2 separate regions of the Homo sapiens genome follow, and region 1 is linked to region 2. A link means that fine-mapping ties the variant in region 2 to the expression of a gene that starts in the linked region. Tissue or cell type: aorta. Region 2 holds a variant in brackets; the other region holds the start of a gene. All regions are shown on one strand. Distances are from middle to middle.

Evidence for each region. PIP is the estimated chance that this variant, and not a neighbour inherited with it, causes the effect.
Region 1: it holds the start of COBLL1, and the variant in region 2 is fine-mapped to the expression of COBLL1 in aorta (GTEx, PIP 0.93).

What each region holds. Positions count from the first base shown.
Region 1 is chr2:164,837,663-164,845,771 of GRCh38, reverse strand. COBLL1 (cordon-bleu WH2 repeat protein like 1) reads left to right here and starts at 3,949. Exons shown (of 14, transcript NM_001365672.2): 1 at 3,949-4,062; 2 at 4,526-4,616. The coding sequence starts at 4,576. LOC101929633 (a long non-coding RNA gene) reads right to left here and starts at 5,023. Exons shown (of 2, transcript NR_110574.1): 1 at 4,950-5,023. RefSeq lists a silencer at 3,766-3,975.
Region 2 is chr2:164,731,319-164,739,427 of GRCh38, reverse strand. The region is part of intron 3 of COBLL1 (cordon-bleu WH2 repeat protein like 1); the gene reads left to right. Among named protein-coding and RNA genes, the nearest start is that of SNORA70F, 48 kb to the right of the region's middle. The variant C/T (reference allele first, on the strand shown) is at 3,548.

The DNA.
Region 1 (8,109 bases), 110 kb before region 2:
ATGAAATACAAAGTCTGAAATAAGACTTTTATTAAAACTGAAATGTAACAACTCTGATCTTGTTATATAAAACCACAAACACACACATGTACACAATCTAAGAAGACATAAAATAAACACTTCCTTTAGGTTGTAATGTGCAAAGGTGAAATGCACAGAAAGATATTAACCATCTTTTAAGTGTAATTTTTCAGTTTTAAATAAAGCTTTTCAAGTGGTACTTATAGTGGAATAAAAACATACTTAAAATAAGCATTTAAAAATGTTTTCATTATTCCAAATAGTTTACAAAAATTTTAGACAAACTCCAACCATTATGGCCCACTTTAACATGCCTATCTGCTTTTTATATAAGCACACAGGTATTTATTAAGCATGTAAACCTCCTTTCCATTTATTACTATCCAGGAGGAATATGAAACCTAGATTATTATTCAGAGAGATATATAGCTAAGTGGACCTTCATTTAGCTTCATTCTACCCATTGATTTTGGTACTAACCCCATTAGGTAACCACGTGAAGAATAAGTCTTCTTTCTCTAGTAAGACAAACTCACCTTCCATCTGTTCCATTTAAAATGGCCTACCAGCCCCTTTGAGTTGAAGTCTTTCCCTGAATCAAGTTCCTTTTAGGATTCTTCTGAGGAGGGAAGGCCTGAAGGTTTCCTTCATTCCTTTATTCAGTACACAAATACTGGTGGAGAGTCTCCTGTGTTCTGGGCTATGCTTTCAGGAGACAAAGGATAAGACGTGGTCCTTTAAGAGTAGGCTGGGCACTGTGGCTCACGCCTATAATCCCAGCACTTTGGGAGGCCGAGGCAGGCGGATCACAAGGTCAGGAGTTCAAGACCAGCCTGGCCAACATGGTAAAACCCCATCTCTGCTAAAAATATAAAAAATTAGCCGGGCACGTGGCACATGCCTGTAGTCCCAGCTATTCGGGAGGCTGAGGCAGGAGAATCACTTGATCCTGGGTGGTGGAGGTTACAGTGAGCCAAGATCATGCCACTGCAGTCCAGCCTGGGTGACAGTGAGACTCTGTCTCAAAAAAAAAAAAAAAAGAGAATAAACCCCTCCAACTCTGCATTATGTAAATGAATAACTGAAACAAAGTGTCATGGGTCCTTGCCCTACCTAACAGAACCTACTGGGGGCCAAGAAAGGGAAGGGCTACTTCTATTTCTGCAATGAGGGAAGTATTCCTGAGGGGATAATACCTATGCTTAGGCACTTAAAATGATCGGCTGGGTGGTGAAATGAGGGGGAGATTCCCAAACGGGGAAATTGAGCGCAATCTTGGAAACGTGGGCAATTTTGAAACAGCTCTGCATAACTAGAAAGATTGGAAAACAGCAGTTTTCTCCTGTTATGTGAAAAGATTTATAGCAGCCAGGCATGGTGGCTTATGCCTGTAATTCCAGCACTTTGGGAGGCTGTGGTGGGCAGATCACCTGAGGCCAGGAGTTCGAGACCAGCCTGGCCAACATGGTGAAACCTTGTCTCTACTAAAAATATAAAAATTAGCCAGGCGTGGTGGTGGTCACCTGTAATCCCAGCTACTCGGGAGGCTGAGGCAGGAGAATCACTTGAACCCCAGAGATGGAGGTTGCAGTGAGCCGAGATCGCATCACTGCACTCCAGCCTGGGCAACAGGAACAAGACTCCTTCTCCAAAAAAAAAAAAAAAAAAAAAAAAAAGATTTATAGCAAATCTGTGATTATTATTTTGCTAATCACTGGCTACAGTGAGGATAGCTTAGTACCATTATGTGAAGACCACCAAGCTTGGTGGTGCTCTTAAGTGGTTTTGCCCAACATGAGCTTATTTCTTGCTTATGTGGATTCTGTTGTAGGTCCTGGGACTCTCCAGGGCAGCTGTGCTCTGGGTAATAGTTTAGCATTCCAGTCTTGTGTCACCTTCATTTTAATACATGCTTTCATGATTGCAGTAGCAAAGGAAGGGAACATAGAGACTCAAACACTGGCAGTAATTTCACCAGGAAATAAAGCATTTCATGTCTGTTCACATTTCCACTTATCAAAGTCACAGGGTCATACCTAATTTCCATGGGGTGGAGCATATAGTTCTCCCTAGGACCAGAAGGAGGACAGCAAAAAGTGGTAAGCACTGAAAATGCCTTCAGTGGTTACGAAATGTTATGAATGTTTTATGACTAAGATTAGCCTAATCTTACTGGTATTAGGGTCCATAATATTACTAGTATGTCATAAATTAAGGCTGAAACTAATTAAAGATTTAATCTTGTCTTGTGATTGAAAGTTATGGACTTTCAAGTAGTTTCACTGTTACTCAATATTTGCATCATTGTCTGTGCAAGCAACTGTAAAAGCTTGCACAGCTCTGTATTCAGAAGCATAAATGATTCATGAAATTGTTTAAACAGAGTTATTGTTTAAAGACTAAAACCCAGAGGTATTTAAATAAATTGCTTTACTCTTAGTTAAAATCTCTAAAAGCAACTTTTTCTAATATGGTTCCAGTATTGTAATCCAAATGAGCCATGTGTTTTTTTCTTTTCATATTTAAGATGCACTGAAAGGACATTATGCACTGAAAGAAATAAATACCAATGCCTGCGTGTGGTAGACAAATGGCACATTGCTAGGCATTTAGTTCAGCAATCTTTTTTTGTTGCTGCAATGGATAACCAACTAAAGGAGCATTAATATCAATTTAATTGTAATACCTGCCAAATGTTATTCTATCAGTGGCTAACACAGGTTTATTACTTGATGTTAGTGCTACAACAGAAGTCCCCTGCAGGATGTTCCTTCCTGTAAGATCTCTCCATCAGTTTAATCCAAATATGTTTTTAAAACTCTAATTTTAAATTCATTTCTTAATGTCACGTTGTTTTCTGAAAACACATTTTTGGGCCCATCAGAATGGCGCGCATCTTAAAACAATTGGCGCTTATGAAAAATATAAAATATGTAAATATATTAGGGTGGTGCAAAAGTAATTGCGGTTTTGTCATTACTTTTTAAAAAAAAAAAAAATGGCAAAAACCGCAGTTACTTTTGCACCAACCTAGTACCTGTCTGTCAGGTGTAAAGAATCATCTAAAGGGCATGCACGTGGATACTAAAACGTACAAACAAGCACACAGCTGTGTCTGATTCCTTTACCCTTGTAAAAGTTCCAATAAGTGAATACAATCTATTACTTAATTCTTAGTTTATAGACTGTCATTAGACATACTGTTGTCCAGTTCTCATGTCAGAGCTGTTATAGGCTTTTACAAAAAATGCCTCTGAAGACAGGGCAAGCTTAAACCTGCCACCAATTAGAAAGATCTGTGTCACAGGTGCGCTTTTAAAAGAATGGCAATCTTAAAGGTCAAGTTAAAAACACAAATTTAAAAAAACGATCCTGGACGTCGAGGGTCGGACTCTAGGGGGGGCAAGCTGCAGGCCCCACTCTGCGAGTTTCTGACCGCATTCCGCGGAGGCCCCAATCCTCCCCGCGGATCCTGGCAAGGCAGGTAACCTCCCTTCCCCCGCACCTGTCCGGTTCAGGCGCACCAGCCTTCCCGAAGCGCAGCCTAGCGGTGGGAATGGGAACACCTCGTCTGGGAGCTTTCTTTCGGTTCAGCTTCCCCAGCCGGACCCCAAAGACCCGAAGCCCTGGGGGAAGGAAATTCCAACTTGCTCCCGGCCCACCCCCGCCCCGTTCCTCTCTCCGGCTCGCTGCTTCCCTCGCTCCAATGCCGCCGAGCTGGTCCCCACTTATGTGCGGCCGTGCTGCAGAGGCGGCGGCGAGCTCCCGGACTCCGGGCAGGGAAATGGGGCAGGGTGAGTGAGAGAGCGGGCTCCAGCGAGGCCCCCAGCGCCCAGCCAGCGCCCGCACCCCGCCCGCGGGACAGGGGAGGTGCTGAGTCGGCCCTGCCCGCGCTGGGCTGAGCCTCGCAGGGGTTGCCGCTTCTCCATTCAAGTCCTGGCTTGAGAGCCGAGCGGCAAGAGCGCGGGCCGGGGAAGGGAAGAGTAGGAGAGGAAGCCGCGAGGGAGAACAGGCGAGCTACTGTCTCCTTTGGAAAAGAACGTAGGAGCCTTGGGTGGGAAAAGAGAGATCAGCCCTCCCAACTTCTCTTCGGGAAAAGTTTTCCTAGGGCGTTTTGTTTGTGCAAACTCGGCCGGAGGAGCCTGGGAGTGCGCTGCCGGCGTGGCAGCGGTGCCCGTGCGCCCGGCCCCGCTCCTCCTCCTTTTCCAGCCCCGGCGGCTCCTCTCCCTCCGAGAGGCGCCAAATGGCTACCCAGTAAACCCCACGGGGCGGGGGCTGCAGCGCCACCGCCTCCTCCGCCGTGCTCTGGGCGCCCGCTAGACCTTGTAGAGACGGCGGCGGCGCCCGCGGGCTGGGAGCCGGGGCCCGCAGGTGGAAGCGCACCCGGGAGGCGGGCCGGCCGGGGCTGGAGCGGCTCGGGCGGGCTCTTGACGCTCAGCCAGCTTCGCTCCGGCCTCGGGAAGGCGCGCGTCCCGCCCTGACCCGCCGGCCTCTCCCACCCCAGCAGTGACGCGCCGCCTGGGAGCTGGAGCCCGCGCAGCGCCCCGCAGGGCGATGGACGGCCGAACCCCGCGCCCGCAGGACGCCCCAGCCAGGTAAGCCCAGAGCGCCGCGCCGCCTCTCACCGGGGAGGGCGAGGCCGGCGAGGACAGCGAGGCCTCGGCCGTTTCACCTGGCTGGCAACTCGCTGCCCTGCCGGCGGCCTGACTCACTGACTGTCCTCCACGCGGCCGGGGAGGCTGCTTCCTCCCGGCCTTCTCGGAGGCCGCCCGGGCGGAGGGCTCGGGTCGTTTTTGGTTGCCTTCCTACCGGGGCTGCCCTGGGTTGCTACAGGCCAGCTGAATGCCAGGAATTGGGTGAGGAGTCCGGGAGCAAAAATTGTAACAAAGGGACCCTTGTTTGGGCTCTGGGGGAGCGGTGGACGATACCTGTAAGTGAGCTCCTGGGGAGGGAGGGCAAAAGTTTCCTTGGTCATGGGCTGAGGCCCAGGCAGGTGAGCAATGTCAAGGTGACTGTAGGGAGTGGGCTTTCTGCAGGCGGGTGGAGGGCGACAGGAGGGTGTGCCAGCTGTCAGCCCGCATGACAGTTCCGGGAGCGAGCGGGGTGCGCGCCTCTGATTGGGGGTGTGTGTGCCTGTGGCCAATTGCTGGTTCCAAAACCCAGCGCAAATCAGATTGCAAACAACTCTACTTTTCTTTTTATCCTCACATGTTTGAGAAGAGAGGAAGGGGGCTGTCACATGGTGAGTTAATATTAAATGAGGCATGTCTTCCTGCCAGATATGCTAATAGTTACCTTGTTAAGCGTTTGAGTAAACAGTAATGAGAACAGGTAGTTCTGCAAGAGATGAAGAAAACCTGAAAATAACCTTGGTCTTAGTAAATAGTTCAGGAGTAACCTGGATGCTAGTTGAGTTTCTCAAGTAGGAAACTCGTTTGATGTAGTACAAGATTTTTCCCCCCAGCATAAGTGTTCCTCCAACATAGTTTATTTTCTTAGTTAATCTGAATGCAGAAATGCCCTAATGAGAATACGAGCATTCCAGAAATAGAAACGTTAAGGAAAAATCGACGTTGTCACTAATGAATGAGACTTGTACAGTTTTCCTGATTTAAGAGTGTAGAAGTCATTTTTCCCTGGAACATGACAGGCGTTTCCTTAGAAGCAAGTCACAGCATGTTTATTCATCAGAGACCATGCGAACATTGGCAGCTGTCTAGAGGAAACATGGAAAAGTCTCAAAGCAACATGACTAATCTAAAAGATATTTAGTATAATTTTTACATAGAGGAAACATGTAGTGTATTAATTATTTCATTTTGCTCAAATTAACTTTCTCCTTTCTGCAAATATTACTCCCACTGTTGACTTTCATTTCTTTTCTTTCCCCAGGTTTTTCATTGCTTAAATATTTTCATATATCCTGACATATATTCTCACATTAGGATGAGTAAAGAAATATATCGGTAGAAAGATATTGAGCATACAAGCAAGGTTCCTAAGTGGAGCTGCAAAATTATGTGAATTGACGATGAGACAGCTGTCAGGATACCGAAATGTATTCAGGGATTGCAAAATGAGATAGAATTAAATTGGATTTGGAAATGGATTAGGTTAAGGTACTTTAAAAAACAAAAAAGAAAGAAAAACATACCTGCTTTCACAAAATACACCCATGGGTGTTCAGAAGTCACTGGGGACTTTTAAGTAAAATAGGTGAGGTCAGATGGCTCTGTGTTGAAGAAACAGAAGAACACTTTTTGCTGGCAAGCATAACTGTAGTAAGAACCTTCAGACTTTACTCTTGATATTTTATTTTAATGTAGAGACAAGGTCTTGCTATGTTGCCTAGTTGATCCGAAACCCCAGGCTTCAAGCAATCCTCTCACCTTGGCTTCCCAAAGTGTTGGGTTTACCAGTATGAGCCAGTGCGCCCAGCCACTTTTGAGAATTTAAAGGTTAAACTGATAAGTTCTTTGCTTAAAAAGAAAGTACAAAAGAGCCTTATCTAATTTGTCAAGCATTTGTAAAGGACTTTTGCCGTCCCCTTTTCAAATTTAAGTAGGGAAAATCTGTCAACACCTTATCTAAAATAACACAGTAGTTCTATCATTTTGCCTTACATTATTCTACTCAGAGAAGTTATCATTACCTGAAAAATATCAACATGAAAAAATTACCTCTCTACTTCATTTGTCTTATTTCACTTGTCTAACTTGTCCTTTGGCATATTCCGAATGCCTGTCATATAAGATTTGTTGAATATTTAATATTCAGTATTGCTTCTCTTCTCTCTCAAAAACCCAAATTATAAAAGGTTTAAACTGGGGGAAAAATATCTAGATAAGGGTATTTGGGAAGTGGCAGGCAGAAATCTTAATATGTTATAATTGTTAGGTTTTGGAGATAAATTTCTTGCTATAAAACTGACTAATTATATCATAACTCATTACTTTAATAGACAATGAAGCCTAGTTTAGTCTTTATCCTTGGATATTACTGTTGGAAAGAATTCCTCTGTAATTTTCCAAGTTTTACATTGTTGTAACATGTCATTTTAACATAGCACCAAGTTTTGTTCTCCACATTTTATAAATGAGAATCTGAAGCTCAGAAACACTGAGTGTGTTGAAGTCCCAGCAAATTAGTAGTAAAACCAGAAGAAAAACTCCAAGTGCCTAGTTCATTTTGTTAATTGCTTTTTATCTTTTCTTGACCATGGTATGATATAACATACCATGACGTTATACATTTTAACGGATAACTTATATTTAACCATTAACTCTGTAATATTTTAATACATTTCAGGAAAAATGTAGTTGATATCCTTATCTTCACTTTTATTAATTCTATGATAAATTAGCCCATTCAGGGAATGAGTATTTTAGGAAAATAAAATTGTTTTATGGCCTCTCAGCTGCTGCTTTTTCTTTGAAACATTCTAAATAATAATTGTAACATCAAAAGGGATAGTTTGAAGTTTGTTTGGTGCCTTCACACATTTAACTCGCATTTAGCATTCTACGACATTGTGAATTATATGGGTTGGGTGTCATTTTCTTTTCAGTGGAAGCAATGGTGTGCAGAAATAGTGGCTGCCGTAGGGTCTGTGCTGGTGAAGTCCCTGCCTTAAAAGGGTCTGATCCTGTGGTCATCTTGAATGTCTTTCATTTTGGCCTCTACTGTACTGCTTTAATCCCTTACCATTCTAGATTAGATCCCTTTCTTTTGAGACAGGCTGGAGTCTTGCTATGTTGCCCAGGCTGACCTTGACCTCTTGGGCCCAAGTGATCCTCCCACCTCAGCCTCCTGCATGGCCGAGACTACAGTCACAAGCCACTGTGCCTGGCTTTAGATCACTTTCTTAGTAACATGCAGAAGTATCCACTTTATATTTGTTGTTCTGTATCTTATGGGCTTCTTTTTGGAATTCGTTATGAGGTTAAGAGTTTAGATATCAAAAGACATTGAGTCACAACAGTTTCGGTTTTCCTTCGAGAAAAAAGATTGCATGCAACTTTATATATATTCAAATGTAATATGTACATTCATATATAATTACATATTTTATGTATACTATACATATAC
Region 2 (8,109 bases):
ATATTTTTGGAAAGTCCCCCCATAGATCTCATGCACAGGTGGGCTCAGGATGTTCTATTTTGGGGAATGTGAGTGCACAGTGGTATCTTCAGAAGAACGCACTTGTTTGTACATTGATTTTCACCAAAGAGCTTGTTCAGATTAGGAAACACAGTGGGGTTGGCGGTGGTCACAGACTTTATGCTCAGGGAGAAACTTATTATCCTGAATTAGGTTGGTAGCCATCTGCCAGCTCAACTATTTTTGGTACCAGAACTTAGTGATGCCATCTCTTTAATGACCAAAAGTCACCATGTCTCTACTATCTTGCCTTTGTGAGGCTCTGCTTACATTGGGCGGGGGTTGCCATGCTAACCTGAAAACTCTTGGGCATTTCTGCATATCCTAATATCATGGATGGTTGGACTGAAAGAAGGAGGAATTAAAATATTTAATTTATATATAAGATACAGTGTAGTATAGATGTATGTGTGTGTATGTCTATGTGTATGTATGTATATATGTTTGCACACATATATAAATGTGTGCGTCTGTGTATAGACTGTGTATACCAAATCCAAAATCTCAAATGCTTCAAATTCCAAAACTTTTTGAGTGTGAATATGATGCTCAAAGGAAATGTTTATTGGAGCATTTCAAATTTTGGATTTCCAGATTAGAGATGCTCAACTCGTGTAATGCAAATACTTCAAAATCTGAAAAAAAATGTGAAATGTAAAACACTTCATGCCTTAAGAATGTTGGATGAGGGATACTCAACCTGTTTCTGTGTGTCTGTGTATCATGTATATAATCGATAAACATCTTTTTCACCAGTCAAAGCAGTTCCTTGCCTTTCTAGAAATGAACATTAAAGGACTACTGTTACAGAACTCGTGGCTCTTCTTCTCAGAAAATGCTATACTTCACAACAGCATAAGCAGTGGTGTCTGCTAGTACTTGGGAAAAGTTAATTTTTAATGAAAGTGAGCTTATAGACTAAACAGATATAGAAACCACATAGAATAAGGAAATATGTGGGTACATTTGTATATGATCTGTATATGGTCTTCATCTTATAGTCGGGTATCAGCTTCATAGGTAATTATTCCTCATTGAATAAGTATTAGTTCCTTTTTCCTCTTTTCCCTTTCTCCAGGCTAAACTTTTAAAGCAAAATGTTCATTTTGGGAAATCTGAAAAGATTGACACGAATCCTTCTTAGCCTGTTGAGAGAGCATTCAATGGCATGCTATCACACTTTCCTACAAGAGGGAGGAAGAAATAAGCACCATTTATAACAGAGGAAGATATTTCTTTTACGCCCTTACCACAAATAGGAATTTGTTTTGATTGGAGCACATGTGAGATGTCATAATTGAAAACACAAAGAAAGCACAGAACTCCAAGCTAGAAGTCCCAACTAGAAGTTACAGTTTGTTCTAGACTTGCTGTGTGATCTCAAGCAAGTCACCTCACCTCTCTGGGCTTTTCACATAAAATAACCCAGAGACATGTCGCACATGCTTTTCAGCCTGATTTACCTGTCCCATAGCACCAGTTTACAGCAGAGTTGAGCCTAAGCCCGCGGTTTTGCCTGGCATAGGGTTGGTCCGCTGAGGAACTCGGGAGCATTTTACATGGATTACAGCGCCACCTATTGGGAAAAAGTAGACTATGAAAAATGACAAGATAAAGGGATCGGTGTGGGATTTTTGCTGAAAAAACGAGAGTAACAACAGTATGGATCTAGAAAAATTTCTGAAGTTCACGTCATATTTATATTTATTGAGAAGTGTCCAGTGATGACAAATGTGTGATAAATATATGTTTATAGCAGGGTAATTTTTTTTTAACTGTCAAAAATCTATAGGGTGGTACAAACCATGTTTAACTATATAAGATGCTTAAATTTTGGTTTAGATCCTTATTCTGCTGTAATTGCCTAAAACAAAAGTTGGCATTTTAACTGTGCAAGTACCTAGACATAACAGTACTACTTGAGTTTTTAATCGGTACTATTTGAGTTTTTAATCATCCTGTCATCTAGGTTCTGTCATTGCCCTCCCATGTCCCCCATGGCTCTGAGCCCAGGAGAATGTCAGCCTCTGTCACCTGCCTGCTCCCCTGGTTGGGAAAGGGGTGACAAAGTATTCACAAATGTCCTCAGAACATTGTTCCTGGCAGGGCCACCCTCTTCCCTTTGCTTTCCTGGCGTCTACACCTTATAATAATGACCCTTTTTAATTTCAGTTTTTTAACTTAATTTAATTTTTAAATTTTTCTAGAGACAGGGTCTCACTCCATTGCCCAGGCTGGAGTGCAGTGGTGTAATCATAGCTCACTGCAGCCTCAAACTCTGGGCTCAAGTGATTGTCCTGCCTTGGCCTCCCAAAGTGCTGGGATTACAGATGTGAGCCACCGTGCTCAGCACTAATTTTAGTTTTTAAATTTTTGTGATTACAAGTGCAATAGTTAGATGTTTTAGAAAGTTGGAAAATACAGATAAGCCAAAAAATTGTAAATGCAATTTCATTAAGCAGGCAGATTGCAACTTCTAACATTGCAGTGTCTAGCCTTTTATTCTTAGGCATGCACATATATGTACACCCATCTATATGTGCACTTCTTTTTTACAACAATATGGTATTATATTGTACGTGCTATTTGTAACCTGCTTTTTTTCAGTTAATGATTTCCATCTTTCATGTCAATAAAATGTTATCCTTTGTCTATATTCAAATTGCCCCAATTATAGTGAGATATATTTGTAGTATTTTTGTTTTTATAAGGGGCATGTATGTGTGTTTAGTAGGTGTGTTCTTAAATCACAATTTTTATGATGGTAATTATTTATAATTAGCTCTGAGTATAACACCTAAGATAAACAACCAGATAGAGTCCAAAGTGGTGACTTTCTAAAAATTGTGGGGCTTTTTACATTTAGTAATATCTATTTTTAGTATGTTAAGAACTTATCAGCTTAGTAATCTGACCTATTACTATTTATCTTCAAATCTTAATTTCATGTGTTATTTTCTTCAAAATATTTCTTATAGCATAATAAGCATTCTCAATTTTGAGAATGGGTCTATTTGTTTCGTGTACCTGGTACATTTCATTTCTTGCACACACAGAGAGAGCACTGCTTCATTCCTGAACTCATTACTGAACTACATGGGTTAGCATAAGATTGATAAACATCAGCAGCAATAGAGAATGTTTTAAAATTTCTGTACTATTACTGGTATGTGTAATTGGGTTGTTGGTGTGCACTTACAAGGTACAGATATGAAACTAATCCAGGGAATTGTTATTTATTTCTGAAAGAAGTGGGAAATCTCATAGGGATTTCTTCATTTCAAAGAAGAGCTTTTAGAGTCTTAAAAAAAAATCAGCCCTCTAGAAAATTATTATATTATCTTACAAGAGAAAAAATTCTGTAAATAATGTTAATGCAAAGCAGACTCTGCTGAGTAATAAAATAACCCAAAATTCAATGTGGTGTAATAATATAGAGGAGTGATTATAATGTTCATCCAATCCTTTTCCACTTTTAATGATTTGC[C/T]TCAGGTTTTAGATGGACTGCTCACGTGTGCTCCTGCCTTAGGAAACAGGAAGACAGGCATCTTTTCTGTGGTGATCCTGTGGTCAAACCCATTAGCCAACTGCCTTCAGGTGCATCAACTAGGGGATGATTATCCAACCAGAATTGTTATCTTTGGCAGAAGTAGTTTGGCATCCAGGTGGATAATTCTGAGCTCTATTCAAGCGATTATTTTATTTCCTGTGGGTGCACTTTGTGACTAGTTAACCCCAGCGGCAGCTCCATTGGAAGCACGACCTGCTTAAAAGTTAATGTCCTACTTTTGTAGTGTTATGACTCCTTTATGGTAAAGCTAGACAGTCAGTAATTCCCAACCTCAAAATCTTGTGGTCAGGGTCAGCTTTCCTGTGTTACAGTGCTGAATGCTGAGGCTTCAATTAAATATTTAAAGCATTCAAACTAGTCTGAGTCTATTTTTGGAAAAGATCTTAACCCTATTTAATGTTTATGTCTCACCTTTGTGTAAAGATGGTATGGCTTAGGCAAAACAAGCTTATTAATTATAAAAAACAACAGAGCTTTCACCATGTTACTTTTTTCTAAAGCATATGAACCTCCTCTCAACAAGTATGCTTTCTCATGTGTCAGTTGTATTAGTCTACTATGCATTTGAGCCCCTTGACTTTCAAGCAGAATTAATCACTGTTTTCTCTAAATTCCCCATTCGACAACAGCGACCTAGCCAGGTGCCTAAAGATTACTAAGATGTGGTCCTGCTAGAGGGGAGCTCACATCTATGTACACACAGAACCCAGTTAACTTCTTGAGGTCACTCTGCTGCTTAAGATCTAAGTAAGGCTGGCCTGAACCCCTGTTCCACTTCCTGTGGAAGGTTCAATGCCCTTTATAATCTCATTGTAAACTCCCAAGAGTTTTACGTTCTTGGGGTCACCTCTGGCTCTGACTTTATGCCTTACCACCTCTGGATTCATATTTTTCAGTTTCTGCTTTTGAAATTTCATCCTTTATTTGACACCTCCCAAGGCTACCAGAACCTTAGTGATGGCTTGTAGAGTTATAGTAAGCACATCACATAGCAAACCATTGAAATTTGCATTTTAGGTCTCCTGTTGGTTACTTTCAGCAACACTGCCACTTTGTCCCTCCAATCCTGCCCTCTTTCCACTGGCTAGCTCCTCTTTCTGTCTCTGTCTCCTTTCTGCATTAGCTTCAATCCTATCAGCTCCCTACAAAATGTATCTAGAATCTGAGTAGTCCAGGACACCACCATCTCCCACCTAAATTTTCGCAATAACCTTGTAGCTGCTCCTCCAGGCTATTTTGAATACAAAAACCAGAATGTAATCCTTTTAAAAAGTAGAGTAGATCACATCACTCCTCAGAACTCTTTGGAGGCTTTCTGTCTCACTCAGTAAAATCTCAAGTCTTCACTTGAAAGGCCTTTAAACACTACAAGATTATCACCCTGATTTCATGCCTATTGTTTTCACTAGCCGACTAGTTTCTGTTTTTCTTTAAACACTTAGAGCACATTCCTGCCTCAGGGTTTTTGTACTTGTCAAAGCTATCTTTCCGCAGATATCCCAGTCCCTTCAAGGTCTCAATTCTGGTGTCATTTTTCAATTAGGACATTCCTAACTTCTTTCCTTATTTTTTTTTTTTTTGTCAGAGCATGTAACACCATCTGATATTTTATATATTTTACTTGTTTCTTTTTTCTCTTCTCTCTAGATCAGTTTCATAAACTTCATAAACTACAGTATGATCAGAATAGGTTGGAGTGCCTGTCAAAGCACAGATTGCTCTTCCTCATTCCCAGAGTTTCTGATTAATGATCTGGGCTGGGGCTTGACAATTTGCATTTCTAACAAGTTCCCAGCAGATACTGATGCTGCTGGTCTATGTATCACACCTTGAGAACCAGCGTGTTAGAATTACTCTATCCAGTATGGCAGCCATTCACCAAATGTGTCTACTTATATTGAATTTAAATTAATTTGAATAAAAAATTTGGTTTGGGAGTCCACTATCCCAGTAACCACTGTGTTAGTGCAGATATAGAACGTTTCCATCAGTGCAGAAAATTCCATTGGGCATATTACTGTAAAACACAAACCATAGAAAGATCCACATGGAGCTTACTTTGGTGTAAGGAATCAGGTTAGATACACAACTTTTCTTTTTCATCCGATAGTTTTCCCAGTACCACTTACTGAAAATTCAGTTGTTTCCCCAGAAACAATTCATATGCAGTATTAAATTCACATATGTAGTTATGTCTATTGCAGAACTTTCTGGATTGCTGCATTTATTTGTCTGGCAATAGGAATATTTTCAAGACAAATTTGGCTTCTGAAATTATTGAATAAAGAATTGGACCTAGAATTATAAAATGAGAGAATAAACTCATAAAGAACTTCTGTGGTTTTCAGTTGCCTCTCAAAGAGGCATTTTTAGTAGAAAACATATAGGCAGTGTTGAGTGCAAAGGTCATGATATAGTCGGCAACTTTTTTCTCATGATATCTGATATAGTGTGTAAAGTTTCTAGATAAATAAAATGACTGAGGGAATAGGCCATTATGTTAATATTCTTAACCAATTACCCACACTATTTATTAGATTAGAAAATTAATTTATCACAGATAGAAATACCAATGTTTCTACACAAGGAATCAAATTGTTCTTTTTAAAAAAATCAAAAATGTATTTTAAATGTTTATATGTTTATACATAAACGATGAAAATTATGGCACAAAAATAGGGATAAAAACCAAACAAAACTTTAATAATTTTTTGTTTTGTGTTTTGTTTTGTTTTGTTTTTTGAGATGGAGTCTTTCTCTGTTACCCAGGCTGGAGTGCAGTGGCGTGATCTCGGCTCACTGCAAGCTCCGCTTCCCAGGTTCACGCTATTCTCCTGCCTCAGCCTCCCAAGTAGCTGGGACTACAGACACCTGCCACCATGCCTGGCTAATTTTTTGTATTTTTAGTAGAGATGGGGTTTCACCACGTTAGCCAGGATGGCCTTGATCTCCTGACGTCATGATCCGCCTGCCTCGGCCTCCCAAAGTGCTGGGATTACAGGCGTGAGCCACCGCACCCGGCCATTTGTCTTGTTAACTTATGTATTTCTGGCAAAGATTCAAAAAAACTGTATATTTAAGAAGTAAAAGATGTTGGAAGAATGAGCTTCAATGTTTTTACATTTATTACTTGACACATTTATATATAGAGAGAAAGAAATACAGTCTGCATGTATCATCATTTACTCATAGACAACAGCAGACAGCTACCCCTTCAGTTGGCAATGAAAGTTCTCTTCTCTTCCAGCTAAACTGCATTTATAATAGTATATAACTAGACATTACCTAATCCTTCTTAACTTTATTTACTATCAAAGAAAGTACTATTTCCAAGTCTAGAATTGGTATGTGCCATCCAATTGCTCTTGTAGAGTACCATATTACCAAAAAATCAACTTCCACAAGACCATTTTGCTAGTCTCTCTCTGGATGAAATTTAAAATGTCCTGTTTAAAGCCAAAACATGGGCAATATAGATACATTTATGGGCATAGCCTGTGGCTCAAAAGAAGGATGTAAAACTCTTAAATATTATGCAACCATCTAATAAAGACACAGGAAATGTATTTTGAGAATTGAAATGTATTCCTGAGAATTTTTTTTAAATTGAGGGACTTAGAACCTTTGATTTATTTATTTTTCTTTATATATATACAAGTAATAGGGTGCTACTTGTATGTGGGGGAGAAGGGATGTGTGAGGGACCGTTGAGAAACATACTCCTTATCCCATAAAGATTGGACTGGCCTAGGAGTAGGCAGCGACCACAGAAAGTAGAGATGGGGGCTGAACACGGGATGATCTGAAATCTATGTAACGTGTTGTTTGACTTCAAGACCACACAGTGTCCGACAGTGAATCCTTCCCCACCTCTGCAGGAGACTCCTTGTCTGGAAGAACTGCATCAGAGGCTGCAGGCCTGGGAGCTTACTAGGGGTGACGTGCCGTATGAAAACAGGTGCACTAAAATAAAAGTAGCATACTGAATGGTGGGATTTCTAGCCCCATTTCCCTGTCAAGTTCCCAAAAGCCAGTAACCAGGTTTATATCTCTAGTCAAGAAATTGGAGAATAACTTTTTACTGATATGTGCATTTCCCTTTCGAGGTGGGATGCAGATGGCTGGCTACCCGATTACCCTAAAGTGAATCCCATGAACCTATGCCTCCATCTGTAAAAATACGATGTACACACTGCGGTTTAGTGCCTTATTCTTAAGTGTGAACTAACAGTTTAGGATCACCTGACATTTGGGGAAAGCACATGATACCAAAGATTTTTTAGTGTGCTTTCCTTAAGGGATGACAGTATTAAGAAAGACTCAGAGACTATGTTGTTCTGTCAGTGATATGAATGAAAATATAAGTCTGTGTCAACAATGAGAATCTATGGAAAGGGAAGCAAAAAATTGGTAAGTATCCCTGAATTCCAAGTTGGGTATGAAAGTTTCTATAGAAATAAGTCCTGTATTACCAATAG